4 linked regions of the Homo sapiens genome follow. The protein of the gene in region 3 interacts with the protein of the main gene of each other region in a pairwise test. Each region holds a gene or a part of one and is shown on either strand. Other genes may lie near its edges. The genes, in order: STOM, CXCR2, SMCO4 and SCN3B.

The links.
Region 1: the proteins of SMCO4 (region 3) and STOM interact in binary tests that used the Homo sapiens proteins (3 or more experiments, as listed by UniProt).
Region 2: the proteins of SMCO4 (region 3) and CXCR2 interact in binary tests that used the Homo sapiens proteins (3 or more experiments, as listed by UniProt).
Region 4: the proteins of SMCO4 (region 3) and SCN3B interact in binary tests that used the Homo sapiens proteins (3 or more experiments, as listed by UniProt).

The regions. Positions count from the first base shown.
Region 1 is NC_000009.12:121,353,248-121,360,276, forward strand, and holds part of STOM (stomatin), read right to left. Parts: intron 2,910-7,029; coding exon 2,806-2,909; intron 1,427-2,805; coding exon 1,354-1,426; intron 56-1,353; coding exon 1-55. UniProt on the Homo sapiens protein: Regulates ion channel activity and transmembrane ion transport. Regulates ASIC2 and ASIC3 channel activity.
Region 2 is NC_000002.12:218,129,028-218,136,056, reverse strand, and holds part of CXCR2 (C-X-C chemokine receptor type 2), read right to left. Parts: intron 6,748-7,029; exon of another isoform or gene 6,744-6,747; 5' UTR 6,692-6,743; intron 1,281-6,691; 5' UTR 1,256-1,280; coding exon 173-1,255; 3' UTR 1-172. UniProt on the Homo sapiens protein: Receptor for interleukin-8 which is a powerful neutrophil chemotactic factor. Binding of IL-8 to the receptor causes activation of neutrophils. This response is mediated via a G-protein that activates a phosphatidylinositol-calcium second messenger system.
Region 3 is NC_000011.10:93,477,952-93,484,400, forward strand, and holds the end of SMCO4 (single-pass membrane and coiled-coil domain-containing protein 4), read right to left. Parts: intron 1,334-6,449; coding exon of another isoform or gene 1,239-1,333; coding exon 1,059-1,238; coding exon of another isoform or gene 919-1,058; 3' UTR 521-918; downstream 1-520.
Region 4 is NC_000011.10:123,644,601-123,651,629, forward strand, and holds part of SCN3B (sodium channel regulatory subunit beta-3 precursor), read right to left. Parts: intron 1,151-7,029; coding exon 987-1,150; intron 1-986. UniProt on the Homo sapiens protein: Regulatory subunit of multiple voltage-gated sodium (Nav) channels directly mediating the depolarization of excitable membranes.

The sequences.
Region 1 (7,029 bases), on a different chromosome or scaffold from region 3:
GTTCTCATGTCCACTTTGATGAAGCTGTCAGTGCATGGCAGAATAAAAAACAAACCTGCAACAAAGATACACACATTATACAGACACCAGCAACCTAATCAGTTCACTTCTCCATTCAGTTTTAAGAAAATCAACCTAGTGAACTGAAAAGTCACCAGTTCATCTTCGTGAATGAGCCAGAAGCCAGGAATGATAACTTTGATTCCTCTTGCTTACTTCCCACATTTGACTGTCTCCACTAAGGTCTGTGGAGTTCATTTCCTTAATCTACTGTTGCTATCACTCTTCTCCCCACCGCCCCACTGGGACCAATGCAATCGTTTCCCAGGCCATCTTTCTATTTTTTGTAGTTTCTCTCCTATAATCTATTTCCTAAGCTGCAAGCCGAGCAATCCCCCCTAAAATACAAACCCTCCCCCACGCATGGTCCTGCATAACCCGCCTTTGTTCCCCTCTTCAGCCACTTCCTCTCTCTTCACACCCTGCACTCTTGCTGGACTGATCTACTTGCAGTTTCTTGAATCTGCAATACTCTCCTCTTTGTTGCTTTGTGTATGTTGCTATTTCCGCCGCAAACACCTCCTGTTGGTTAACACCTTTTCAGACCTCAAGACTCAGTCAAGATGTAACTTCCAGAAAGCCTTGACTCAGCCTACGACTAGTTCAGATCAGTAACACTTCTCTGGTTTTCTCTTTTCTCACAGCTCTCTGTGAGTACTTGATCATAATACTTATCACATAGGATTGTAGCTATCTGTTTCCTTGTTGGTTCCTACCACTAGATAGGAAGATCCTTGAGGGTAGGGACTGTGTTTTAGTCTCCCTTGAATTCCCAGAACCTGGAACACAGTAGGAGCTTAATTGAAGTTTGCCAAATGAATGACTGAAAGTCTTTCTTTGGTAGAGATTCTCATGCTCAAACTTGTATAGCTGTACTGTTCTTGGCCTAGGTGGTAATCTTATCAGCTCAAATGGGAAGGGGAGGGGAAGGGTAGGAAGGAAAGGGTAACAAAAGATTGGCTAGAACCACTGCTATTGTTATACAACTCCTGCTACATGAACTCTTATCTAAGACAGAGTAGAAGAGGCCCTCATAAGGGAAATCACGTCAATAAAAAAATTTTAGACTGGGCACGGTGGCTCACGTCTGTAATCCTAGTGCTTTGGGAAGCTGGGGTGGGATGATTGCTTGAGGTCAGGAGTTCAAGGCTGCAGTGAGACATGAGCATGCCACTGTACTCCAGCCTGGGCGACGGAATGAAACCCTGTCTTTAAAAAAACAACTACCTAAAAATAAAAAAAATAAAAAGAACTTTAGTTTTCAGATAAACAATCTAGAATCCCAGTACTGACCAGGTCCTTTGGCTCCTCCTTGTAAAATGCGACCCAATCTAAAGATGATGGCTCTTTCATACTCTTTTATAATCTAGAATAAAAACATGAATAATAATTTAACATGAAGAGTACAAATATATACATGCATGGCTTCTTAAATATATATTTCTGCTCTAAACAGATTAGATGCCTCATCTTTTTTCTTTAGAACCAGATCATATCTATAAATCACATGTCCAATGTTTACCTTCTCAAAGCTTATTTATTATTTTCTTACTGATTACAAAAGCAATAGATATTCACTGTATAAATTTAGGAAGGACAGAATAGTATACAGAAACAAATCCATAACCTCACTCCTCAGCTGTTAACATTGTTATTCAGTTACTCATGCAGGCCAGGCACGGTGGCTCACGCCTGTAATTTCAGCATTTTGGAAGGCCGAGGTGGGCAGATCACGGAGGTTAGGAGTTCAAGACCAGCCTGGCCAACATGGTGAAACCCTGTTTCTACTAAAAATACAAAAATTATCCGGGTATGGTGGTGGGTGCCTATAATCCAAGCTACAAGGGAGGATGAGACAGGAGAATCACTTGAACCGAGATCGCACCACTGCACTCCAGCCTGGGCCACAAGGTGACTCCGTCTCAAAAAAAAAAAAAAAAAAATAATAATAATAATAATAATCCCAGCTACACGGGAGGCTGAGGCAGAAGAATCGCTTGAACCTGGGAGGCGGAGGTTGCAGTGAGCCGAGATCGCGCCACTGCACTCCAGCCTGGGCGACAGAGCAAGGCTCTGGCTCAAAAAAAAAAAAAAAAATTACTCATGCATTGTTAATTCAGAAACACAAAAAGCTGAAGTCTTCACAGTTTTTCTTCTGATTCCCTTAAGAATAAATTGATCTGAAAATGCTTGGAGCATATTTTATCTTCTTAGAAATATGTAAATAATAGTCATATATCAAAGTATTAACAACTTTGTAGAAAAAATAACGAGCACTGAGGGTATTTATGACGTGCCAGGCATTGTGATAAGTACATTTAGACACATAATTCATTTAATCCTCGCAACACTCCTATGAAGTAGGTACTGTTACTTTCTCCCATTTTACAGGTGAGGAAACAGCAAAGGTCACACAATAAACAGTAAAGCCAGCAGTCAAACCCTATCATCCTAACTCTGAAGAACTTGTTCTCTCAGAACCATCTCACATCCCTGGCCCCAGGAAATTTTTGATGGTGAAACTTACTTTAGCCCACGGGGAAGGGCAATGGCTGAAAAGAAGTTTTAAGGTTCCATTTTAATAGGTGGGTAGAAGAATAAATTTTCCAAAGAAAGATGAAGAAATAAGAATTATAAGAGAGAGAGACAGTCTGTTTCTTTCTCACATACACACAGGCACACACGAAGTAGGTTTATGGAGGTAGGAGTTGACCCCTTCCCAGAAGTGAATGAAATGTTCTTTACCTTTATGCACATCCATATTGAGATTGGGAAAGTTATAACGGTGAATAAGAATGAGAACGCCACCAAAATCCATCCGCAAGGTCCAAGGCCCTTACTGGGGCTGTCTGTTGAAAACAAAAAATATACAACTCTCACAACTGTTACTAGCATAATCACCACCATCTTCATCCTTACCATTCGCTGAATACCTATGTGCTTGGCACTACACCAGCTGTTTTACATGAATTTCCCCATCTAATCCTCATACAGCCCTGAAGTGTAAGTACTACTTTCCCTTATCTATGTGATGTCATAACACAAGTATATTTCCACATTACTCATTACTTTATTCAGCAAACATTTATTAAGCATCTACTATTTATTAGGCCCTCTGCTTTGTACTGAAATGATAACAATGAGTAAGACCCAATCCCAGCTTTCAGGGTTAAAGTTTAGTGGGAAAGTCAGACAAACACATAATTATAATATTAGGTGGTAAGTACAGATATAGAGTATCTGTTCAGAATATTTTGAAGACACAGAATGAGTTAACTCACGCAGTTAGGATGGAGGTGAGAAAGGAATGGGGCGGGGAGGTGATTCAGGTGGCTGTCAGAGGGTTTCCTGAAGGATGTAATAGTAAGAAAATATCGACGAAAAGAAAGTGGAGGCTGGGCGTCGTGGCTCACGCCTGTAATCCCAGCACTTTGGGAGGCCGAGACAGGTGGATCACTTGAGGTCAAGAGTTCAAGACCAGCCTGATCAACATGATAAAACCCCGTCTCTACTAAAAATACAAAAATTAGCTAGGCGTTGTGGTGAGTGCCTGTAATCCCAGCTACTGGGAAGGCTGAGGCAGGAGAATTGCATGAACCCAGGAGGTGGAGGTTGCAGTGAGCCAAGATTGTACCACTGCACTCCAGCCTGGGCAACAGAGGAAGAATCTGTCAAAAGAAAAGAAAAGAAAAGAAAAAGGAAAGAGGGAAAAGGCATTAGAGCATTTTAGCTAGGAGTACAGTACGAATAAAGGTGAAAACCATATGATATGAGTATAAAGTTGTTTAGAGCCTCTTTTTAAAAATTACACCTGTAAAATATTTCACTAGGTTTATGCAGCATCATTTATTGCCCACTTCCTGATTACACAGGTTGTTTGATTTCTTAGTGCTATAAACAGTGTTGTAGTGAACATCTTTGTACACGGCTTTCCTCTCACATTTCTAATTGTTTCCTGTTCCTGTAATATGCAACAGCTTTTCCGTCTGATTACAAAGGTAATAATGCAAAAAATTCACAGAAGTATAACAAAGGAGGGAAAAATTACTTTAAATTCAGAGGTATTTTGGTATATTCTTTGAAAATTTTCCTAGTGTACACACCATATTTTTAAATGATATATATATATATATTTATTTATTTATTTTTTGAGACAGAGTCTTGCTCTGTTGCCCAGGCTGGAGTGCAGCAGCACAGTCTCACCTCACTGCAACCTCCACCTCCTGGGATCATGCGATTCTCCCGTCTCAATCTCCTGAGTAGCTGGGATTACAGCCACCTGCCACCACACCCGGCTACTTTTTGTATTTAGTACAGATGGGGTTTCACCATGTTGGCCAGGCTGGCCTCGAACTCCTGACGTCAAGTGATCTGCCCACCATGGCCTTCCAAAGTGCTGGGATTACAGGCATAAGCCACTGCGCCCGGCCTTAAATCATATTTTTAAAAATAAATAAATAAATAAAATGTGTAACCTATTTTTCTTCCCTGTAGCTATTCTCTTTCACCTTCTTTTTTGGCCTTCGTGGTTATGCATTTGTGTTTTTGAAGTTACACTTGCATAAAGTTTAAAAAGTCAAACCATTCTATATGATTAGTACAAAAAAAGGGCATTCCCATGCTCACCTCTTCCAATTTCCTCCTCCTCAAAAACATTTGCTATTTTGACCATTTTGATATCTACCTCCATATTTCTAAATAATACGCTTTGCAGCTGGGTGCAGGGGTCACACCTGTAATCCCAGCACTTTGGGAGGCTGAGGAGGGAGGATCCCTTGAGCCCAGGGGTTTGAGACTAGCTTGGGCAACATAGGGAGACTCTGTCTCTACTTTAAAAAAAAAAAAAATAATAATAATAATATGCTTCTGCCAGGCATGGTGGCTCACGCCTGTAATCCCAGCACTTTGGGAGGCCGAGATGGGAGGATTGCTTGAGCTCAGGAGTTTGAGACCAGCATGGGCAACCTAGTGAGACTCCCATCTCTACTTGAAACTTCTTAAAAAAAATTAGCTGTGTGTGGTGGCACACACCTGTAGTCCCAGCTACTGAGGAGACTGAAATAGGGGGATTGCTTGAGCCTGGGGGTTCGTGGCTGCAGTGAGCTGTGATGTACCCCAGCCTGGACAACAAAGTGAGGAAAGAAAGAAAGAAAGAAAAGGAAGGAAGGAAGGAAGGAAATGCTTGTTTTGTTACTTCTTGCTTTTTCAGTTTTGAGGACTATTAACTTTCTACTACAGAAAAAGATTTAGTTCTCTTTCCTCCCCGTTACCCCCACCACATACTTATACCCAGCTTTCCAATATAATTACATCATAACTTCATTTAGATCAATATGAGATTTTATATTATGAATTTGTAAGTGCAATTTAAAGCTAAGCCAAGTAGTGAGGTATCACTGGTTTTCTCTTCCTGTACTATTTTTGTTTTTTCTGGAATTACTGTCTTATTTTTTCCCTTTGTTCGGTTTTCAACGTACTTATTGATCCAACCTTAAATCAATTGCCTAAATTTCCTCTCAAAGAGGTCAGGTATACTATCAATTTTATCTTCTGGAAGAATTCTCTCTCAGAGCCTTGTGTGGACTTCCTTCATCTGGTGTGCACGGCTATCATTCTGCAATTGCTTTCACTATCATCCTGGGAACTCCCATCACCTCAGTGTTGTGTTCCTATTTTCTGTATCAAGTGTCATCCTCATTTTTAGTTTGCTTTTGCTTTCTGTAGAGGACATAGGGACTGAGAAGGCCAAGGGATATAGTAGGTTTTCTTATCAACCACTTGGAAGGCTTCTGCTGTATTTTCAGGAGCTATTTTAATGACAGAGGGGAGAAAAGGTATGCCAGGCACATGTTACTGCTCAGAAGAAAGGGCAAAATGGCAGTAAGATGGGGCTTGGAATAAATAGGAGGCCAAGAAATAAGCAGAGTGTTCAGGCTGGGAACATGGGAGAAGAGAGACACATGTTGGCACCCAGGTCAAGTGCTCTAAAACATAGGATGAAAAATCAGAAATATAGTGAGTACTTGGGTTGTATGTGACTTGGTAGTTTTCTGATCCTGTGTTATAGTGTGAGGTAAATGTCTTCATGTATACTTAAATAAAATGATCTAAAGTAATCCTGGAGGTTTCTAAGTTATAATTTAGGGGGTACAGACATATTCATTGAGAGAATATTCAAAGCAGGGCCATAGTACTGTTTGTGAAGAAAGCTTTATCTAGTATTACCATGACTGATCATAGCAACAGTGGCTGTTTTGAGGGGTTGTGTATACCCCAGGCATTTTTTAAAGTTACTTTAGACATGTATCTCATTTAACTCTTACAACAGCCCTGTGAGGGTATTTTTAAATCCCTTTTACAAATGAGTTACCTAAAGCAACATTTAACTTTCCCAAAGTCACACAATGGAAGACCTGGGACTCAAATATGGGTCATCTTACTCCAAAGCCCGTGTTCCAAATTCACCCCTCAATAAAAAAAATCCTCATTAAGAATGTTTTCGTGGTTGAGCACTTTCTCAAGACAGTATCCAAACTGAAAAGCATGGCTGGAGTTGTGAGAATGAAATCTGATATTTTTACAGAGGAAGTCCTCTTAATGCCAGCCATGCCTATTTATAGCAAAAGATAGTTTCAAGGCTCTGTGACAGACACAGGTCTAGGTTTCCAGGGTGAAATGAATTCCAAACAAGGACAGACTGACCACAAATACTTATTTATCTGACAGCATTTGGTGCCTTTTCAAATACTGTCCAAGTCTCCCATAACATACTAGAGTAAAAACTCCCTGAGGGCAGGGATGTTGCTTATTCACTTTTATATTCTCAATGTCTAGCACAGTATCCTGCATAGTAGAATAGATATAAAATAAAATACTTCTCAGCAAGTTTTCTAGCTAGATATGTCTTTTTCTTTCCTTTGAATCTCGATAGCATTTTTTGAAAATTATCTTATGGCACTTATATCTTGT
Region 2 (7,029 bases), on a different chromosome or scaffold from region 3:
TTTCTAAACCATGCAAGGGAAACTAGTAAGAACGTGGCCTCCTCTACTTCCTGTGACCACAATGGGGGCTGCATTGACACTGAGACCAAGAAGAACCAGTGGACATGAGGCTTGGAATGTGACTGTGAAGAGAAGGGAGGAACCCCACGGGGCTGCACTTAGGCAGGAGGTCTTAGAGAGTAGTGGAAGTGTGCCCTGAAGAAGAGCCAACAAAGGAAGGCCTGCTGTCTTTGGGCAGGGAGTCCTTGCTGATCAAGCCATGTATAGCTAGAATCTTGAGGAGTCCATGGCGAAACTTCTGGCCAATGAAGGCGTAGATGAGGGGGTTGAGGCAGCTGTGAAGGATGCCCAGAATCTCGGTGGCATCCAGAGCCCGGTCGATGTGATTGCGGCGCTCACAGGTCTCCTGGATCACCTGGGTCCTCATGAGGGTGTCTGCCAGCAGGACCAGGTTGTAGGGCAGCCAGCAGAGCAGGAAGATGAGGACGACAGCAAAGATGACCCGCATGGCCCGGTGCTTCTGCCCCATGTGGGCCTTAAACAGCGTACGCAGGGTGAATCCGTAGCAGAACAGCATGATCAGCAGTGGCACGATGAAGCCAAAGGACTGGGGCAGGATCCGTAACAGCATCCGCCAGTTTGCTGTATTGTTGCCCATGTCCTCATAGCAGGCTGGGCTAACATTGGATGAGTAGACGGTCCTTCGGAAAAGTAAGACAGGCAGGGCCAGGAGCAAGGACAGACCCCAGATGCTGAGACATATGAATTTGACCAAGTAGCGCTTCTGGGTCAGTGTGCGTGTGGCATGGACAATGGCCAGGTAACGGTCCACACTGATGCAGGCCAGTAGCAGGATGCCACTATAGAAGTTGACTTCCTTCAGGAGTGAGACCACCTTGCACAGGAATGTGCCAAAAATCCAGCCATTCACCTTGGAGGCGGCCCAGATGGGCAAGGTCAGGGCAAAGAGTAGGTCGGCCAAGGCTAGGTTCAGCAGGTAGACATCAGTGACGGAGCGGCCGACCCTGCTGTATAAGATGACCAGCATCACGAGGGAGTTTCCCAGCAGGCTCAGCAGGAATACCAGGGCATAGATAATGACCACAAAATACTTGTTGATTTCCAGGGATTCTGGTTCACATGGGGCGGCATCTAGTAGAAAAGGGGGCAGGGTAGAGCTGTAACTGTAATTACTAAGATCTTCACCTTTCCAGAAATCTTCAAAGCTGTCACTCTCCATGTTAAAATCTTCCATTTTTGAGGTAAACTTAAATCCTGACCTATAGAAGAGAGATGAAGGTTACTGCATAATAAATTCCCCATATTCTTGCCCATCCACTCAAGAAACTGGGATAGGATTCTTTGTGTTGGCTTGAGTATTACAATGTAGTAATTTTTCCCTTCAAATTTGTAAGTGGTAGCTCTTAGGTTATGAGATAAATTTGGTGATAAATGGTACATTTTATGAGAGGACCATAGTTCTCTTTAATATAAGAGAGAAATTCTTAGCATTTCTTTTAGCATCGCCATCACCTAAAACTTTGTAGAAAGTTCTCTTTGGATAATCCCCACAGAACCCTCAATACTACCTGGATCCTTCAGTGGCGAGCATCTTTGGCTATCAAGGCTGGGTTTAATGTTCAGAAATGTGAGATGTGAGATGTCACTCAGTTCTTTTTTTTTTGTCTTAGAGATGGGGACTTGTTATGTTGCTCAGGATGGTCTTAAACTCCTGACCTTAAGTAATTCTCCTGCCTCTGTCTCCCAAAGTGCTGGGAATATAGGCATGAGCCACTGCACTCAGCCCCATTCAGTTTTTAATCAGGGGATTAAGCAGGAACTCCAAATGGGCTATACCCTCAGAAAAGATCATGGTTTGACTATAAAGCTGAGACATGAATCCCTTTGTTCAATTTTCTAAAAGTTATTTTAAAAGATGTATTCTGGAAAATGGTTTGAACAATTGTGGCATGGAGTTTTGGAAGGCTCGAGCTAGCAGAGTCTTCAGTTAATTAGTAAGGCCCAGCGTTTCTCTTTTGGGTAGAAGGAGACCCGCTTTGGGAATGTCTGTGTAGTTTGGAAAAGTATATTAAAAACAATAAGCAAGCGGGCTGCCTGATTCTCCCTGTGGGTGGAAACGTAACAGGTTATTTGGGGAGCTCTGGGCAGCCATGTGCCACCATGCGGGATAAGCAGACACAGCCAGTCTGCTACCCAATAAGAGAGGGGCAGCAGGAAGCAGAGAAGACAGGGTTTGCACTACCCTTGCTTGGTGGCTTTCCAGCCCTGCTGGAGACCCTTCCTGTCCTGCATGTGTGTGCCTCCATCTAGCCTTGACTCCCCTGTTCCTCTCAGATTTAGTCTAGCTCCTGGGGCTCTGCCCTTGCCACAGGGACAGCACAGATCCTGCTCTGGGGAAGCCTGGGTGTGGAGGGTGGGCTGCAGTTATTCAAAAATATTATCCCAGTGGTGGCTCACACCTGTAATCCCAGCACTTTGGGAGGCTGAGGTGGCAGATCACTTGAGGTCAGGAGTTTGAGAGCAGCCTGGCTAACATGGTGAAACACTGTCTCTACTAATAATACAAAAATTAGCCAGGTATGGTGACGTGCACCTGTAATCCCAGCTACTTGGGAGGCTGAGGCACAAGAATTGCTTGAACCCAGGAGGTGGAGGTTGCAGTGAGCCGAAATCACATCACTGCACTCCAGCCTGGGCAACAGAGCGAGACTCTGCCTCAAAAAAAAAAAAAAAAAAAAAAAAAAATCCCAGTTTCTCAAAGCAGTCAACTAAAGCAATCCAGCTCCCTAATTAGCTTCTTTCTGAACCACAAAATAGATCACCCTCCGGCCATTGCCTTAGAGTAAGGGATGACCACCCTACCACCAACCATGTCCAAGTCCGTAATCTACCCCCAAAATGGAACCCAGTGTGAGAGAAAAACCAGGAAGTTAAAGGTCCCAGAACCCACTTCACACTCACCAGGCTGGGCACACTCAGAAAAAGATGCCCAAGAACAATGTGGGTGAGGAAGTGGAAAAGTCAGAACTCTCCCACATTGCAGGTGGGAATGTAAGATGGTGCAGCTGCTTTGGAAAACAGCTTAGCAGTTGCTCAAAAAAGTTAAACATAGAGTTACCACATGAACCAGCAAACCCCAACCTAGGTATACACCCAAGAGAATTGAAAGCTAATGTTCATAGTAGCATTCATCATTAAGGCCAAAAAGTGGAAACAAACCAAATATCCATCAACTGATGAACGGACAGACAAATTGAGGAACAGTCATGAGCAACTGAAAGACTTTTTGGTCAATGACACATCACAAATACCACAGTGGTCCCATAAGATTATAATACTGTATTTTTAGTGTTCTTTTCCTATGTTTATATATAAGAATACCATTGTGTTATAATTACCTACAGTATTTAGTACAGTAACATGCTGAGTAGGTTTGTAGCCTAGGAGCAGTACTCTACCATATAGCCCATGTGTGTAGTAGGCTATAGCATCGTATACTCTACCATGTTCACATGACATATTTCTCAGAATGCATCCGCATTGTTAAGCAACTTATGACTGTATTATGTACAACAGAATATTATTCAGCCATGAGAAGGAATGAGGTACTGATACACAATACAACATGGATGAACCTTGAAAATGTTAGTCTAGGTGAAAAAAGGCAGACACAAAAGTTTTCTTATTGTGTGATTCCATATATGTGAAATGACCAAAATAGGCAAATGGGTAGAATTGGTAGAGACAGAAAGTAGATTGGTGGTTTCCAGGGTCAAGGGGAGCTGGGAGAGGAATGTTAATGACTACGGAGTTTTTCTTTTGAGTGATAAAAGTGTTCTGGAATTAGTGGCAATGGTTGTAGAATATGCTAAAAACTTTAAATGGGTGACTTTTGGGGTATGTGACTTATGTCTTAATTAAAAAAAAGATTAATCAAAGGGTACACGGCCTTGCAAAGCAAATACAAATATTACAAAAATAACAACAAAAGTCCCAGGGAGGATTTCTTTTTAGCAGAAAGGAAGTCTCTGTTGTCATCAATCATATGTAGCAAAGAAGAAAGCTGAAGAAGATTAAGCAAAACTGGAAAAATAATGCCACTTTTCCCCCAAGAGTGATGGAATTCTTAGCCATCACCTTCCTGACAAGTTTTTAGTTTCTCTTTTAAGAGTTAGGGGCCAGATACATTGCCTTCCCAGCATGCCGAGGCAACTGATGGAGAAGATTCAATCAGTTGTAATGTACTATACTAGATCACAACAATAAAAGTTAACATTTGGGCCGGGCGTGGTGGCTCCCAGCACTTTGGGAGGCCGAGATGGGCGGATCATGAGGTCAGGAGATCGAGACCATCCTGGCTAATGCAGTGAAACCCCGTCTCTACTAAAAATACAAAAAATTAGCTGGGCGTGGTGGCGGGCGCCTGTGGTCCCAGCTACTCGGGAGGCTGAGGCAGGAGAACGGTGTGAACCCGGGAAGCGAAGCTTGCAGTGAGCCGAGATGGCGCCACTGCACTCCAGCCTGGGCGACAGAGGAGACTCCGTCTCAAAAAAAAAAAAAAAAAAGTTAACATTGTACTTTATGTATGTCTTACGTAATTTATAAGCAATCCCTCATTTCTGGCCCTGCCTGGCCAGAAGGCTGGGGAGGTATTGAGAGGGCTGGGAATACAGCTTGCTGGACCAGTATGGTCAGCAAGACCTGAAAGAAGTCACCAGCTCCTCAGTCCCATGGTTGAGAGCAAGTTTGCTGAGAGGCCCAGGGTATGTCCAATGAAGTCAAGAGGTCAAGGGTGGATCACTTCTGGGAGCAGATGATTACAGATGCTCTTAAGGGAACAAATGACCCAACAGAAGACCCATCTTTGAGAGTAGATGTAGGGCATATTGGGTGCAGAGAGCTTGTGCTCTTAGAGAGCAGGGCCTTGTATGTATGAATATTGGCTGTGAGAAGCCAGGACTGAGGCTGCTGCAGAAACTGCCATGTCAGCACAGGCAGCAGTGGCAGAGCATGTTTCACAGGTAAATCCTCACTGTGGATAATCCAGTGCTCAGCTGTGCTGGGGGTGGGCTGGAGGTGTATGGGTGAGCTCATGCTCCCAGGCATTATGGGTCAGCTTCAGGTTCCAGAGGGAGAGCATGCAAGTCAGGACAGAAGGTAGAGAACTCAGCAAGGAGAACCAGGTCAGGCCAGTGACCTCCAGCTCCTAGGGTAGGGAGAGGGGTGTTTGTTGTTGGTGTTGTTTTTTAGTTTACCAATCTCTACAGAGGATGACTTGGCAGTTAGAGGGACAAACTAAGGGAAGGAGATGACACATCTGAGGTCTGCTTTGTGCCTCACAGGTACATGATCTCCATGGCTCATTACAAATAGATACAATTAGGCCCTGTTTCTAGAAGACTGAGGCACAAGGAGGATCAGCTGACCTAACAGGGAGGCTCAGTAACCAGCCTGCGATCACAGGGTGGAGAAGTGGTGAAACCACTGTTCCAGTGAGGTATAAAGGACTACACTTGCCTTATTTGTAGTCTATAGCCCTTCCTCTTAAAAAAAGTGCACCTCATCTATTAAACATATTTGTAAGCTAAGTTCTCTTTTTCTTTCTTTTTTTCTTTTTTTGATGCAGTCTCGCTCTGTTGCCAGGCTGGAGTGCAATGGCGTGATCTCGGCTCACTGCAACCTCCACCTCCCGGGTTCAAGTGATTCTCCTGCCTCAGCTTCCCAAGTAGCTGAGATTACAGGCGCCTGCCACTGCACCCGGCCAATTTTTGTATTTTAGTAGAGACGGGGTTTCACTATGTTGGTCGGGCTGGTCTCGAACTCCTGACCTCAGGTGATCCGCCCACCTTAGCCTCCCAAAGTGCTGAGATTACAGGTGTAAGCCACCGTGCCCAGCAAAGCTAAGTTCTTGAGATATCATTAAATCAACCTGTATATGGTCCACTCACATTCTTTCATGTTTTATGCATTGTTTTCTTTTGCCGTTTCTTTGGCCCAGAATGAAAGAAACAGCTCTTGCAGGGATGATAAACCAAACACCCTTGAACTGGCTGGGTCCGGCTGACCACACAGTCATATATTCCAGGATAAAAAGGGAGCTTCCTTGACTTAGGGAAAATGCCAGCCCCTTAGTGACTCATGGTAGTTTGGAAACTCCATAGATGATGGCATGAATTCTAATTTATTACATGAAAATGCTATAGAACGAGAGACATTTACAAGATCTCAAACATCTAAGGCAATCTTTTTAACAACAAAAGAGTCATTTTAGTACAGTTCCAGTATTCTTTCTCTCTATAAATATAATCCACAAATATTGCATTTAGTGTCGGGAAGTGGGAAGCGAACAGTGTTCGGCCCATCCTCAGACCCAGTCCTAGCCCAGGCCAGGAGGGCTGGCTGAGTCTTGGAAGGCTGCCAGGCCAAGGGAAAAGCATGGGCAGCAAGTGGCCCTGAGTGGTTGGAGAGGGTTGTGAGGGAGGAGGAACAGAAGTTCTTCCTTTGGGGATGGAGAGCCCCAAAGGGAGAAAATGAAGAGGCCAAGGGGTGAGGGTGAGGGGCCCACCAAGGGTGGGGAGAGATGCTTAGGATAAATGTAGGCTGGGTATCAAGGGAAACAGAGAACAGAGACATTCTAGCTGGTGGGAAGGGTGGGTGTTCCAAGACTTACTGGGTCGCTGGGCTTTTCACCTGTAGGACACCTCCAGAAGAGCAGCTGTGACCTATGAAAGGGAGGTGGTGGTGAGAACACAGTGGAGGAAGTGAGTGGTAGATTAGATTGCTCAATGCAATTCAGGGGTGGAGCTCCTGAGGGTGCGGGTGATTTTGATAACTTTGAATAATTAGTTCCCAGATCAGCTCTCGGATGCATAGTCATTTCATAGACTCGTAGAGTTTATATTGGGAAGGGACCTGAGGGGTTTTCTACCTAGTCTTTCCATTTTACAGATGGGGAAACTGAAGCCCAAAGGAAATGGCTTGCCCAGGATTGCATGGATTTCTTTCATC
Region 3 (6,449 bases):
AGACATCCTCAGAACAGTAACCATGAATCTGACTTCCAAAAAGAGGCTGCTCCATCAGGAACCAGGACCGCCTGAGCAGTGCTGTTAGAATAAAATGAGGCAACCATTCCAGCCAATTTGCATTGAAAACTCAGCTGGAATGCCAACAATTTGCATCCTTTCAGCTAAGAACAAAACCAAGCCTGACCTTTACTTCCAGGATCACTCTGTATTGCTGTTTGCACAAACATACCGAGTTGAAGTAGGAAAAACTAACTGGTGTAAAAAGCACCTGTCGTCACAGTCTAATTAGAACTCTCACTTTCTAAAGCAAGCCAATTAATATACCCTTTCTGTCCCTCTCCATCTTAAAATTATCGGTCAAAAAGCATAATTTTACTCAGAAATGATGAGCAGAGGGAGTGCTGGGGAAGGTGGAGAGAGCCACAGGAGAAAGGGAAGGGGAGGGAAGAGGGGCAGACCCGTGGGCAGGGGGAGACCCACAGACAGCACCTCCTTGCAAAACATGATAAGCATCCAGTTTAAGGCTATTATCTCCTTTATTCAAAAAATAAATATTTCACTTTGATTCAACATATTTCAAATCACATTAAGCACAGAGAAGAAATACAGTCCCTTTGGAGATTGTGAACACGTGTTGGAAAGAAGCATGATCCAAACAATGGGAATGAGGTGAGTGTGGATTCCAGCTGTTTCCTGACCCAGAGGTTCCATCCCTCTTCAGGTGGAGCTACTTATCGATTTTTAGGAGAGAAAAAGAAGCACACACACACACACACACACACACACACACACACACACATGCGCGCGCGCTTTGAAGTCTGAAAGGCACATGAAGTGGACCATAAGGTGTATGGCACATTCACTGATAAAACATCCCCTATTCCCTCCCAAGAAAGCGGAGATACTTTAATCAAGTCAAAGACCAGAGAAGACAGGGTGCTCCTGCTTACAGCTCAGCAACATGAACATCTCTGAATATGAAAGCCATTTTTTGTTTGCGTCCCCCTCCCGCGCCTCCTCTCCCTGCCGATGGGGTCCGCAGCCGGCTGCGGGGCTCACTCGGTGATGGTGGGGCGCGTGGCCACGTACACAAACACCACGATCAAGAGCACGACCACGGCCAGCGTGGGCAGCACCACTGTAGTGATCTGCTGCCGGGCCTCCTGCATGGCTTGCTTCCGCTCCTTCTTGTCCTTGGAGGTCTCCTTCTTGGGCTTCCCTTTGAGCTGCCGCATCTTTCCTAGAGGATGCTAGGAGGGTGTGTCCAGAGGGATTCCAGGAAGGGCCACACTCCTCTTGCCAAGGCTGGAACCTCCTGTAGAGAGAACAACTGTGATAGTAGAGAATAAACCAAATAGAAGAAAAAATAAATCACTTAAAGGCAAATACACAACTAGGAAAAATATCTGCAACTTACATGACAAAGGGCTAAGAACAGAGGCCACACCAGGCTCTAAGTTCTCTTGGGATCAGCGCTCTAAGTAGTGGGCACTGGGTCACCGGTGTGCTGTGAGAGGGGCCTCCGCTCCAGCGCCAGCTGGACAAAGCCCTGGGTACCAGACAAATAATACTGTGTTCTGTACATGCCATGAGGTGAAAGGATTGGGAAGCACCAACTACGCCGCCTCCACTCAGAGGAGCGGCTCTCCCTTTCGTGGCTCTAGCTACTTGCTTTCCTGCTCTAAGTTCCATGATCTCCCCAGCCCATCTCCAGCATGGAACTGCAGGCAGCCTGCAGTCTCCAGGCACGTAGCCCCCTTCCTGCCCAAGCCAGGCCAGCCTCATTAAGGCTGCAGAGAGCCCACAGGCATCAACTTCTCTCATCTCTTTGTTGGTTCCTTGGCCCATTCATCCAAACCTTCCCAAGCACCCACCGTGTGCCAAGCATTACTCAAGGAGCTGAGGATAGAGATGAAGGACTCAGTTGTGTCCCCACAGAGGTCACCGTCTAGGGGGCATGATGGAGACCCGGGTCACAGTAATAATGAAGGGAGACGGCTGAGCCCACAGTCCTGCCACCCACTCAACCTGGGATTCTCCTGTTAATTCTGTAGCTCACGGAGGTGCCTAACAGGTGAAGTAGAACTTTCAGGGGCCAGAAGAATGAATACAAATGTTTGGATAACTACAGAGGAACATCTCTATAAAAGTCGGCTTCTTAGCTTTAAGCAGATGAAGCAGACTTCAGCTGATTTAAATCGAGTTTACTTAAAGGCCTTTGGCATCTCACTGATTCCCAGAAAAGCCAAAGAACCAGGCTCAGAAAATGGGCAGGACATTATGCTGTGCTGCCATAACTGGAGCCCAACTCACACTCCCAGTGTGAGGATGCCAGAGCCTGCATCACCACCGTCAGCACTGGACATGGGCACTGGAGCAGGAGGTGCCGAGCCACCATGACCACCCCCAAAAACTAGATGTGGCTGCTGGCACAGTCTCCAGATGAACTCGCCACCCCCCAGCATTCTGCATCACCAGCTTCCATGCATGTGTGACTAGCCAAGCCCCGGCCCATATGCCCACAGCCTAGCCTTCCAATTTGTACAGCAGGAAGAGTACTTTTCAAACACAGTGACGGAGTGGGGTTGGGTATCAGGGCTATATCAAAGGCAGATGTCCATTACAATATTCTCGGAGAGTAGCATGGAGTGAGGGGTTCTTGGAAGCAGAAGAGCACTGAATACCAATGTTCCTCTAGCAGAGGGACCTATGCTGTATACTGTCTGCCCTGTTTTGTCCCAGGGTAGTGGGTGGCCTGTCATCATCTTGAGGAGGAAGATGACATTTACACCTAAGTGACCGAGGTGGTAGAATGTGAACTCAGAGTTGGGAAAGGTCTTACTGACACCATCCTGTTTTTATGAGGGATACTTAATCTCTTACCATTCCTCTCACTCCATTTAGACCCCAAAACCTTTTTTGTATCATTCAAAATCAGGCAGAGTTTCCTAAGGTATGAGATGACAAATATTATTGTGCTAGGATGGCATAATGCCAATCAAAAGCAAACATTAAGGTTCAGCAAATATTAAGGGAAGCGCCATTTGGGCAAATGTATAATTTCCTTCATGAAATAAGGAACAGAGAGAAAAAAAAAAACACCTACTATTACTTTCTTAAGGCCTGAAAGGTATAGGAACCCCTGGCTTTACCAATTCTCCTTTTCAAGTCTTCCAAAGGACTTCCAGGCAGACTTGCCTTCAAATCCAGGACCAATCACTTACAGGCTAAATGGCTTTGAGCAAGTCACTTAACTCCACTAGGCCTCCATGCCATCATCTGAACAATGAGAACAGCTTGTCTTAAAGGATGACTGTGAGAATCTGGAAAACAAATGCATCTGTACCCAGAGCTCTGCCCGCCCGCAGGGACGCGGTACAGGTGGGCTGAGACATCTCCACCCATACCCGTGGGCGGCCCAGGGACGGGTGCACTGAGCTCCTCTAAGCCTGACTGCAGCCTTGAGTGATGCCCACCTTCGCGGGACCGTGGTGAGGATGGAGTAGGAAGCTGTATAACTCAGGGCTTGGCACAGAGCGGGCGGCGAATTCGTGCTAGCTGACATACCAACACCTGGAACACACCCCAACGGCCCTGTGAGTCAGACAGACAGGCTTTATTATCCCCATCACGGAAGGGAGGAAACCAAGGAGCAAAGGGGAAAAATGTCTTGCCAACAGTCACCCAGTTTGTAAATACCCCATGGCTTCTAACAGAGCAATGGACAGCATTCCTGTTCAAAGCTGCAAATGGCAGCCTATTCTCTCCGACACGGCCTCAAAAAAATTGTTTAAAAAGAAACAAGCCATTAGCAGCACTCTGATTCGTGGCCATTTCCTTGTGGAGCTAATGGCCTGTCGGAGCCCGCTGCTGTCTCTCCCAAATTCCTCACAGGACTGGCAGGTGGCACCCCAGGCCTGGGGCTAGCCATGCCCTGGCTGGCTGGCTAGCAGTGCTGGGCCTGACTTCCCTCCTGCACTTCATGCTGCTGTCTGCATCCACCCACACAAGTGTAGTTGACATTCAAAGGCCCCAGCCTCCACAATGACCAGTTCTCAACATTTGTAAGATGCATTCAGAAGTTCCTGGAGGCATGGAAAAAAGCCTCAAGCTGCTGGGGCCAGGGCCGGTCTGGTCAGGATTTAAAGGGCAAACATGCCCGTCTGAATCCTGGGTACTTCATCAGGCTTCAGGAGGAGCAGCGTCTCTGCTCTCACTCACCTGTGAGCTGGGGCAGCAAGGGAAAGCATCTCTGAGATAACGACTGGGGAGGGGACCCTATGGTGAAAAGGGACCAACCAGGAAAAAAGCTGGGAAGAGCACCAGGCAGAGGGCAGAGTGGCCTGAGCCAGGGAGGGCATGGGCACTGGGGAAGGGCGGACTCAAGAAGCGCATTGAGTGCTCTGCATGTGAGGATGCTTCTTAGACATCGTCATGGAAATAATATCAAGGAGGCAATTGGATAAATGAGTCAGGAGCTGGGTCTGGGCTGAAGATCTGTATTTGGAAGTCATCAACTATTGGATTAAGAGAGATCATGTCCAAGGCAGGCAGAGAAAGGGCCCAGGACTGAGTCCTTTCACCCTGACAGCTACAGGGCAGGAAGGGGAAGAGCAAGCATGGGGTACTCAGAGAAAAGGAGTGAGGCAAAAGAGAACGTGCTGTCGTGGGGACCAAGACAGTCAAGAAGGTCAACTGTGAGAAGACAGAGGCATTTGTGCCAGAACATAAGCGAACGCACTGCTTCCTTCCTCGGGAATATTTGGCCAGGGAAAAACTGTCAGTGGCACGTGCTCAGTGCAGAGCTGGCTGACACTCTGCTGCAAGCCCCTCTGTCTTCCGGTAGCTTGTGATGACGGGTCTGCATGCCAGCACGCCAAACAGCACCAGGGCAGAAAACTGCTTTGAAGTTTTGTGGGAAGAATGTGTGTGGCCAAAATGGTTTTTCTTTCTTTTTCTTTAAATAATAAGCGAAACTAGAGAATGATGTTTGAGGGGTCTAATAGAATGGGAGAAAACCCTGACACTGAAAAAAGAAGAGGTCTCTGTAGGAGCAAGACAAGAAGCTGAATGGACAGACCTGCCTTCGAGAGGCAAAGGACCCTTTGAACTCAACAAGAGGAGGTAGGAAGATGGCACTGGGGGCGAGGGGTGGCTCCGTACTGTGAGGGTTGGGGGACTAAAGGCTTCTGTTTTTTTCAATGAAATAGGAGAAGGTTTCAGCTTAAAGTCTGGGAAGTTGGGAGGCAGACTCAGGGAAAGAGAAATCAAGAAGCAATCACTTTTGGAGGGTGGAAAGGCCACCACAGAGCACTGTCCATGCCCGCCTCCCTCTGGGCTAAGGATCGCCTCACCATGGCTCTGGGCCCAGGGGCTGCACCGGGCGGCCTCCTGGGCCAGGGCTGGCTCAAGCACATCTGCTAGGACCTCTGAAATGTGGGCTTGCCTAAAGGAGAAGCTGGGCCAACTGGCCTCTACTTCAAGAATCTAAGAGACATGAATGGACACTGAAGTTGGACAATCACACAGTTGTAGTCACCAGGGAAGCCAGGTGGGAGAGAGGCCTGGGGGTGGAGGGAGCACTCCAGAGAGGCCACAAGAGAAGCCTCCACACTCTCCTCCTTCTAGTCGAGTCCCCTGTGAGGCCAGCTCTACACAGGTTCCTGTCCTCAGGGTACTCCGACGTGTCTCTGTATGTGATGAACGCCTCTTTCAACTTTGGCTGGCTCCAAGGGGTCTCTGTCCCTTACACTGGAAAGAGCTCTGCCTAAAATGACTGCTCCAGTTTCACAAGGAAGAATCCAAGGCCCTGCCACTGACACAAAAGAAAGGACTGGCAGAGTCAAAGGTCAAACCCACATCTGTGACTCTGAAGCCTGGACAGTCCCCACCTTCCTGGGTGTACCCCACTTATCTTCCCGCCCTTCGCCCACTTTGTGCCCCCATCATGGTTCAGCAGCCCCTTGCAGAGAGAAATAAATGAAGCTCACACGCTCAGCCTGGCTTCTGCCCAGCAAGCAGCTCAGGCAGGATGGAAGCTGCAGCCTCCAGCTTCTCAAATGCCAGTGCCCCACGGCCTCTAGCTTCCCTAACCAGGGAAACGGAAACTTCACAAATGCCTGAGTTCTACTAATTCTAATGAAACTCCACCTGCTATGCTCCTACCCCCCACCAGCACACACCCACGGCAACCGGTCAGCATGGGGACACTCCAAATGGTCCCCAGTATGTGTGGGCAGGAGACCAGAGGCAGAGAGGAGGAAAGCAGGGACGCATTCTTCAGCACAGAATTGTTTGTGATTTTTTTTCTGTGATTAGAACTTTCCCGTCTTTTCCTACTTATGTATATAGATATGCATGTATGCACACATGCTAACTTCTTATATGCACTTTTCTCCGATTTGGAGATTATAATGTACACAGAGTGTTAGATCCTATTAAGGAAT
Region 4 (7,029 bases), about 30 Mb from region 3:
GTCTCTACTAAAAATACCAAAATTAGCTGGGCATGGTGGTGGTGCCTATAGTCCCAGCTACTGGGGAGGCTGAGGTGGGAGAATCGCTTGAATCTGGGAGGTGGAGGTTACAGTAAGCGAGATCACACCACTGCACTCCAGCTGGGTGACAGAGGGAGACCCCGTTGAGAGAGAGAGAGAGAGAGAGAGAGAGAGAGAGAATATATATATATATATATATATATATATATATATATATATACACACACACATATATACACACACACATACATATATATATATACACACACATATACAACCACTTTGCCACTGGCACCAACCACCCAGAACTGACACTGGCTATGGTGCAGGAGCAGAATCTGGAAGACTCCCAGCTCTGCCAGGAGCGAATCTCTTCGTTTCCAAATCATGGATAAGTCTGGGGGTTCAGCCACTTAGGAGACTCGGCACAGCAAGTATCCACGAGAGAACTGTTTGACATAATTGACTCACTGATGTGGCTGTGCTGGGTGTCCCGGGTGAATGTCACCCTTGGATCACTCTTTGTCATCCCTGTCATTCCTATTTCAATGGGACTGCAGGAGTTAAAGGAGCTAACCTTTGTTATTTCACATAATGATGCTTTGTGTTATTCCAATTTCTTTATGAATTTAATGCATATAATAGGATGGCACAGAAGATTAGATGAAAACACCTGCAAAATGTGTGGTAGGGCGCCTATCACATAGTAGGCTTTAAATATAGCATATCTCTTTCCTCTGCTTCCTCCAGCCCATAATCAAGGGTGCTTGCAGCTGGCCCAGTGCCCTTTCTCTCACAGAAGCTGGGGCTTCACTAAGGCTGTCAGTTATCTGCTGAGGATCTGTCAGTGTTTGGAAGAGAAGGAGCCAGTGTTTGCTAGCTTGGCATCCCCCGGACTGTCAGGAGCCAGGCTGGGAACAGCAGAGGCCAGCAGAAGAAAGGCCAGAGTCAGCAGTCTAACATACAAGGAAATCTTTACCGCCCTCGGGCCTGTAGAACCATTCCACCACCGTGGTGGCCTCCACCTCCTCTCTCTTCATGCAGGAGATGCAGCGCAGCTTCATGGGGTTGCCCTGCACGGCCTCCGTCTCCGAGGGCACTTCCACACACACAGGGAAGCAGACACTGACTGCAGAGAGGACAGATGGACAGGGAAGGAACAGCAGGTGGTGGGGGAGGGGCACAGGAGAGAAACATTGGAGAAGAAGGAGGGAGGGAAGAGAGACAGAGAAGGAAGAGTCATGAGGCCAACCTGAAAAAAGCCACGTGCACATGTCTACACCTTCACCTGCGCTCCCTGAATGTACAGGCTCAGAACGTGTACACATTGGAGGAGACCTGGATGATCTAGACATTGACTGAAATCCTTCCCCTGGAAGCAGTGGAGATGCAGCACCGTACATTATACTTGAGCCCTGCTCTCTAAGTCTTATAGCCCAAATGGGAGACAGGGCATCTACCTACCCAGCAACCATCCATCCCCCTTCATTCCACCACCACTCATTAAAATCCACTCTCTGCCAGGTCTGATGCTAGACTAGAGATGCAAAGATGAATAAAACACTAACCATGCCCTAAATGCATTTATAATCCAATAGGGAACACATATTCCTAACTAGGATTAAACCAGACCACAGCAAGTAACACACTCATGATATATTCTGTTCTTAGAAGACAGGCAGTTAGTTACTCCCAGTTGGCCTGGGGAGAAAGGAAGAGAAGGATGGTGAAACATGAGGCTAGAAAGGTAGGCAGGGCCCATGCTGTGAAGACCTCTGTGTGTCCCTTCCAGTGTGAGGTATCCAATGTTTTAAAGTCGTGGAGAGATGTAATTGTATCTGTGTTGTGTGAAAACTGTAGGTAATTCTGACACATGGTGGAGGTTGGAGCAGCAGTGAAGAAAATGGCGAGCGGACCACTAAGCTGGAACAATGGTCTATGCAGAGGAGTATAGCAAGGCAAGTTAAAATCTGGAGCGGGGTCAGATTGTGGGACACCTTGCATGCCACACAGAGGTCTAAGACTTAGTGTTTCTGCCCTCTAGAAACTTGAAGTCTGTTTTTTAAAAGGAGGCAAGTATATCAGCTTGATAATTCAGAATAACTTGAGCGGGACAAGGCTGCCAGCAAAACATGCGCAAATGTGAGCTGCATTAACAGATGTACAGTACGCAGGAGGAAGGAGGCGTAGTTTCTCGGCACTGTTTTTGGAACAAATCTGGACTATTATGATCAGTTCAGGATGTCACATTTTAAAAAAGGAAGTTGTTCAAAGAGTGCATGCCCAGAGGTGAGGGAGATGGTGAAGGATCTGGAGATAAAGTCTGGTGAGGAAAAAATGGGAGAATTCGAGTTGCTTAGCTTGGACACAGAACATATCTGTCTTCAAATATTTGAAGGCTGGCAGATGGAAGAGAAATTTGATTCTGCCCAACCCTAAAAGTTATAAGAAAAAAATAAGTTTAATGCAATAAAGAAAGAATTTTATGATTTTGGAGCTGTTCACAAATGCAAATAACTAAATGCTAAGAGAGTGTACACAGCATTGTTTGGGATATTTGAAAGTAAGACGAGGCCAGGTGCTGTGGCTCACACCTGCAATCCCAGCACTTTGGGAGGCTAAGTTGAGAGGATTGCTTGATGTTAGGGGTCTGAGACAAGCCTGGGCAACATAGTGAGACCCCTGAGTCTACAAAAATAAAATAAAATAAAAATTAGCCAAACATGGTAACACACAACTGTAGTCCCAACCACTCAGGAGGTAAGAGGATTGCTTGAGCCCAGGAGTTTGAGGCTGCAATGAGCTATGATGGCACCACTGCACTCCAGACTGGTTGACAGAGTAAGACCCTATCTCTTGAAAAAATAAAAACAACATGATGGTCACCGCAGATTCTTATATTAGGACTTTGAAGATCCCTTCTGATGCTACTTTTTCATGAATTAATAATAAAAACAGAACCCCCAGAAAAAAAAAGAAATAATACACACTACATTTAAAAACTAGTCCACTGTTAATGGTCAGCCTGTTCATCTCCTGGCAGAGCGTTCTTTCCTAAAAGCAGAGGAAGGTTTTATTTAGAGCTTAATAAGACACTGCCATAAATTAATTTTGAGTCCAAAAACTGTGTTTGATTGACTTAGAAGGCAATGTATTTATTTTAAAACATGGAGTTTAAAAACTAGTGGCACTAGAATTAACTTAAAGTTGTAAACATCAAGGTAAAATAAATGTAATTGGGTTTTCAACTCTCCAGCAAGCTGGGTGAGTCTTATCTGACAGTCTTCAAGAGGACCTATTGCTTCTGCAGATGGTGAGCCACGTTAATGGAGAGAGGACTCACATCTAGGGAGAACTGATCAGAAACATCTTCAGCATATGATGAGTCTGAAGTATTGATTATAGATCTGATTAAACAAAAAGGAAATGTGGTTTGCGCAAAAGTTTGTGAGTGGGCAGAGGGGTAGAGCGTATGCAGCAAGAACTCCGTGTAGTATGGAACCTCAAGGCACATTCATATTTAATGAGAGCTGGCAAAGATAAATTCATTCATTTCATGTTGACAAACTCAGAAGTGGACTAAGAAGTCTCAAGGAATGCACAGTTACAATTATAGAGGCAGGGTGAAGATAGAATCTGGCAACTGAAGAGTTGGGTTTGATGTACTATGTAATCTCTCTGGACTCAGTTTATTCATCGACATCATGCTGAAAGTTACATCTGTCTAGTAGGTTTATCATGAGAATTTTATGGATTAATTTACATGAATGTGCTTTGTACAAATGTCATTATTCATGTTATTCTATCTTTCGTTTATTTCCCAAATATACTGAGTGCCTTCTGGGTGCCAGGCATTATTCTAAGCACGAAGAATACACCAGAGAACAAAAGAAAAGAATCCCTGTTTTATGGAGCTTACATTCCAATGGAGGGAGAGGGAAAACAGCAACATTAAATAGTAAAAAGTGCTGTGAGAAAAAATAAAACAGGAGAGAGTGTGTGCACAGGGTCATTGGAGGATGGCCTTTCTGAGAAGGTATCATTGAGCAGGCGCTGAAGAAAAGAAATGAGGATACAAGCTATACACATATCTGTGTGAAGGCATGTCAAACACAGGAAATTGCAACTCAAGGGCTCAAGGGGCCCAAAGGAGTGTGTTTGTCATGCTCAACAGACAGCAAACAGTCCAATGTGGAAATTACAGCAAACAACGTGAGAATAGAAGGGGATGAAGTAGTAGGAGGGATGGGGAGGGCCAGATCACAGCAGGTCTTATTGGCCATGTTAGAACCTTGGCATTTGCTTAGAGTTTATGGCATTTGCATGGAGCAGCAGAAGGTTCTGAGAGGAAGAATGATGGGATCTAATTTGTACAAGATCATATGATCTGATGCTGTGTTGGGAATAAACTGATGAAGTGAAAGGGACAAGGGTGGAATCAAAACAGTTAAGAGGTCTGGTACAGGGATCGGATTGGAAGACGATTTTGTTTTGGTGAAGATGACAGTAGAGCTGGTGGAGTTTGAAAGAAATGAAATGCAAGAAAATGATTTGCTGGATTAACATCTTTGAAAAGGTGAGAGGTGATGTGCTCTAGTGAACAAGTAGATGGGATGGCAGAGATAGAAGCATAGTTAGTTCATTTATAGTTAATGGAGGGAAAGCAGTCAGGATGGCAAATGGGGTATGGCAGAAAGTGGGGTAGCCCCTCTCTTTTCTTGGTTGCCCCTAAGGCAACAATAATCCAAGGTATCATCATAGAGCAAGTCCCACTCCTTCCCTTCTGGTCAAAATCTAGTTTCAGGGCATGAGAACTCTGCTCGTATGATCCTGAAGAGTACATTGAAAAATGGCCACAAAGTTCCCCCACCTCTGTTTGCTTGCCTTTTGCAGTATGACTTGCTGCTCCTTGCTTCAAGAGGTAATGTCTGTTTCTCCATCCTTTGAGTCTTCAGCACACCACTGTCTTTCTTTCTTTCTCCTTTCTTTTTCTTTTCTTTCTTTTTTCTTTCTTTCTTTTTTTTCTTTCTTTCTCTTTCTTTCTTTCTTTTTTTCCTCTCTCTCTCTCTGTCTCTGTCTCTCTCTCTTTCTTTTTTTTTTAGATGGAGTTTCACTCTTGTCACCCAGGCTGGAGTACAATGGCATGATCTCAGCTTACTGCAACCTCCGCCTCCTGGGTTCAAGCGATTCTCCTGCCTCAGCCCCCTGAGTAGCTGGGATTACAGGCACCTGCCATCACGCCCAGCTAATTTTTGTATTTTTAGTAAAGACAGGGTTTCACTATGTTGGCCAGGCTAGTCTCAAACTTCTGACCTCAGGTGATCTACCCACCTTGACCTCCCAAAGTGCCGGGATTACAGACATGAGCCACAGCACCCAGTCCACCACTGCCCTTCTTTCTATGAAACCCTCTAGGTATTCAAAGAAGGCTGTAAATATGGCAGGAGCTCAAACTACATTGCTGACTAAAAGTAACAAACTCTTGGAATAATGTTGACCAAATCATTTGACCTTTGTTCTTCTCTTCAATTCCCATAATAATAATGAAGAAATTTATGAGAAGGAAAAACATGATTATTAATAATGATCATATTTCACTAGGGAGTAGTAGCATCCATCTATCATGAGGCAGATAATAAAGAATTATGAACCAGCTTCTCTGATACCCTCAAATCTTTCTCTTCTTTGGACAATGCCCAATTTTTCCTCCTGAGATTGCTCTAGAATGCTTTCCTTTGCACTGAGATAATGAAAAATTTGATTAGAATATAAACAATTTCCAAAAAGGGGTAATAAATGAGGTTATTTTTAGATGCTGACACCCTGACGTGACTTGTTCTGTCAATTTAGCTGGTCACTTAGGGCCTTGAATAGGATGCACGAAAGATCACCAGGGGAAGAGAGGAAAACACACAGGGCAACTAGAAGGGCAGGCCTGGAGAAGAAGGGCAGAGAAGGTACTAGGTGCTAGTGAGTGAGGCCCTAGGACAGGTGATGGTGTTGGGGAGAGATGGGACGGTAGCTCAGAAGAGAAATGGGAGGACAGGTGCCCTCCTGGCGATTGTGCATAGTAGCACATGTGTCCATGAGAGGTGCTAGAAGGAGCACTGGAAGACTGAAATCAGAAAACAAGGGTTCTCTAGCAAGTCCTTTCCCTTCCCCGAGCTCATTTTCTCATCTCTAAACTGGAAATAGCACTCTTTCCCCTGACTACCTCAGGGATAGACATGAGGACCAAAACAAGCAATGTATTGAAAATTACATTGTAAACTGTGATGCACAGGCAAATATAGGGTTTTATTTATTTATTTATTTTAAAGGCTGGGCATGGTGACTCATGCCTATAATCCTAGCATTATGGGAGGCTGAAGCAGGAGGATTACTTGAGCCCAGGAGTTAGAGACCAGCCTGGGCAATATGGCGAGACATCGTCTGTATTAATTTTTTTAATACAATTATTATTATTTTATTGTATTAATTATTTATTGTATTAATTATTTATTGTATTGTATTATTTTTTAAATCTCTTTAAAAAATAAAAATTATTACATGCTTTAACAAAGGAAATAAGGAAACTTTTTTTCATGCATGCAGAAAGTAAATGGAAAGACTCTTTCCCTTCATATTGTACATCATATTAAAAAATCAACTTTGGAAGGGGGAACACATCTAACCCAGCATTATTGTTCAATATTGGAATTGCATGCAAATCAAATGAAATTGTATCTGTGAAGGGCGGCTGTTTTTCTTTCTTTTTTTTTTGATGGAGTCTCGCCCTGTTGCCCACGCTGGAGTGCAGTGGCACAATCTTGGCTCACTGCAACCTCCACCTCCCAGGTTCAAGCAATCCTCCTGCCTCAGTCCCCCTAGTAGCTGGGATTATAGGCACGCACCACTATGCCCGACTAATTTTTGTATTTTTAGCAGAGATGGGGTTTCGCCGTGTTGGCCAGGCTGGTCTTGAACTCCTGACCTCAGGTGATCCACCCGCCTCGGCCTCCCAAATTG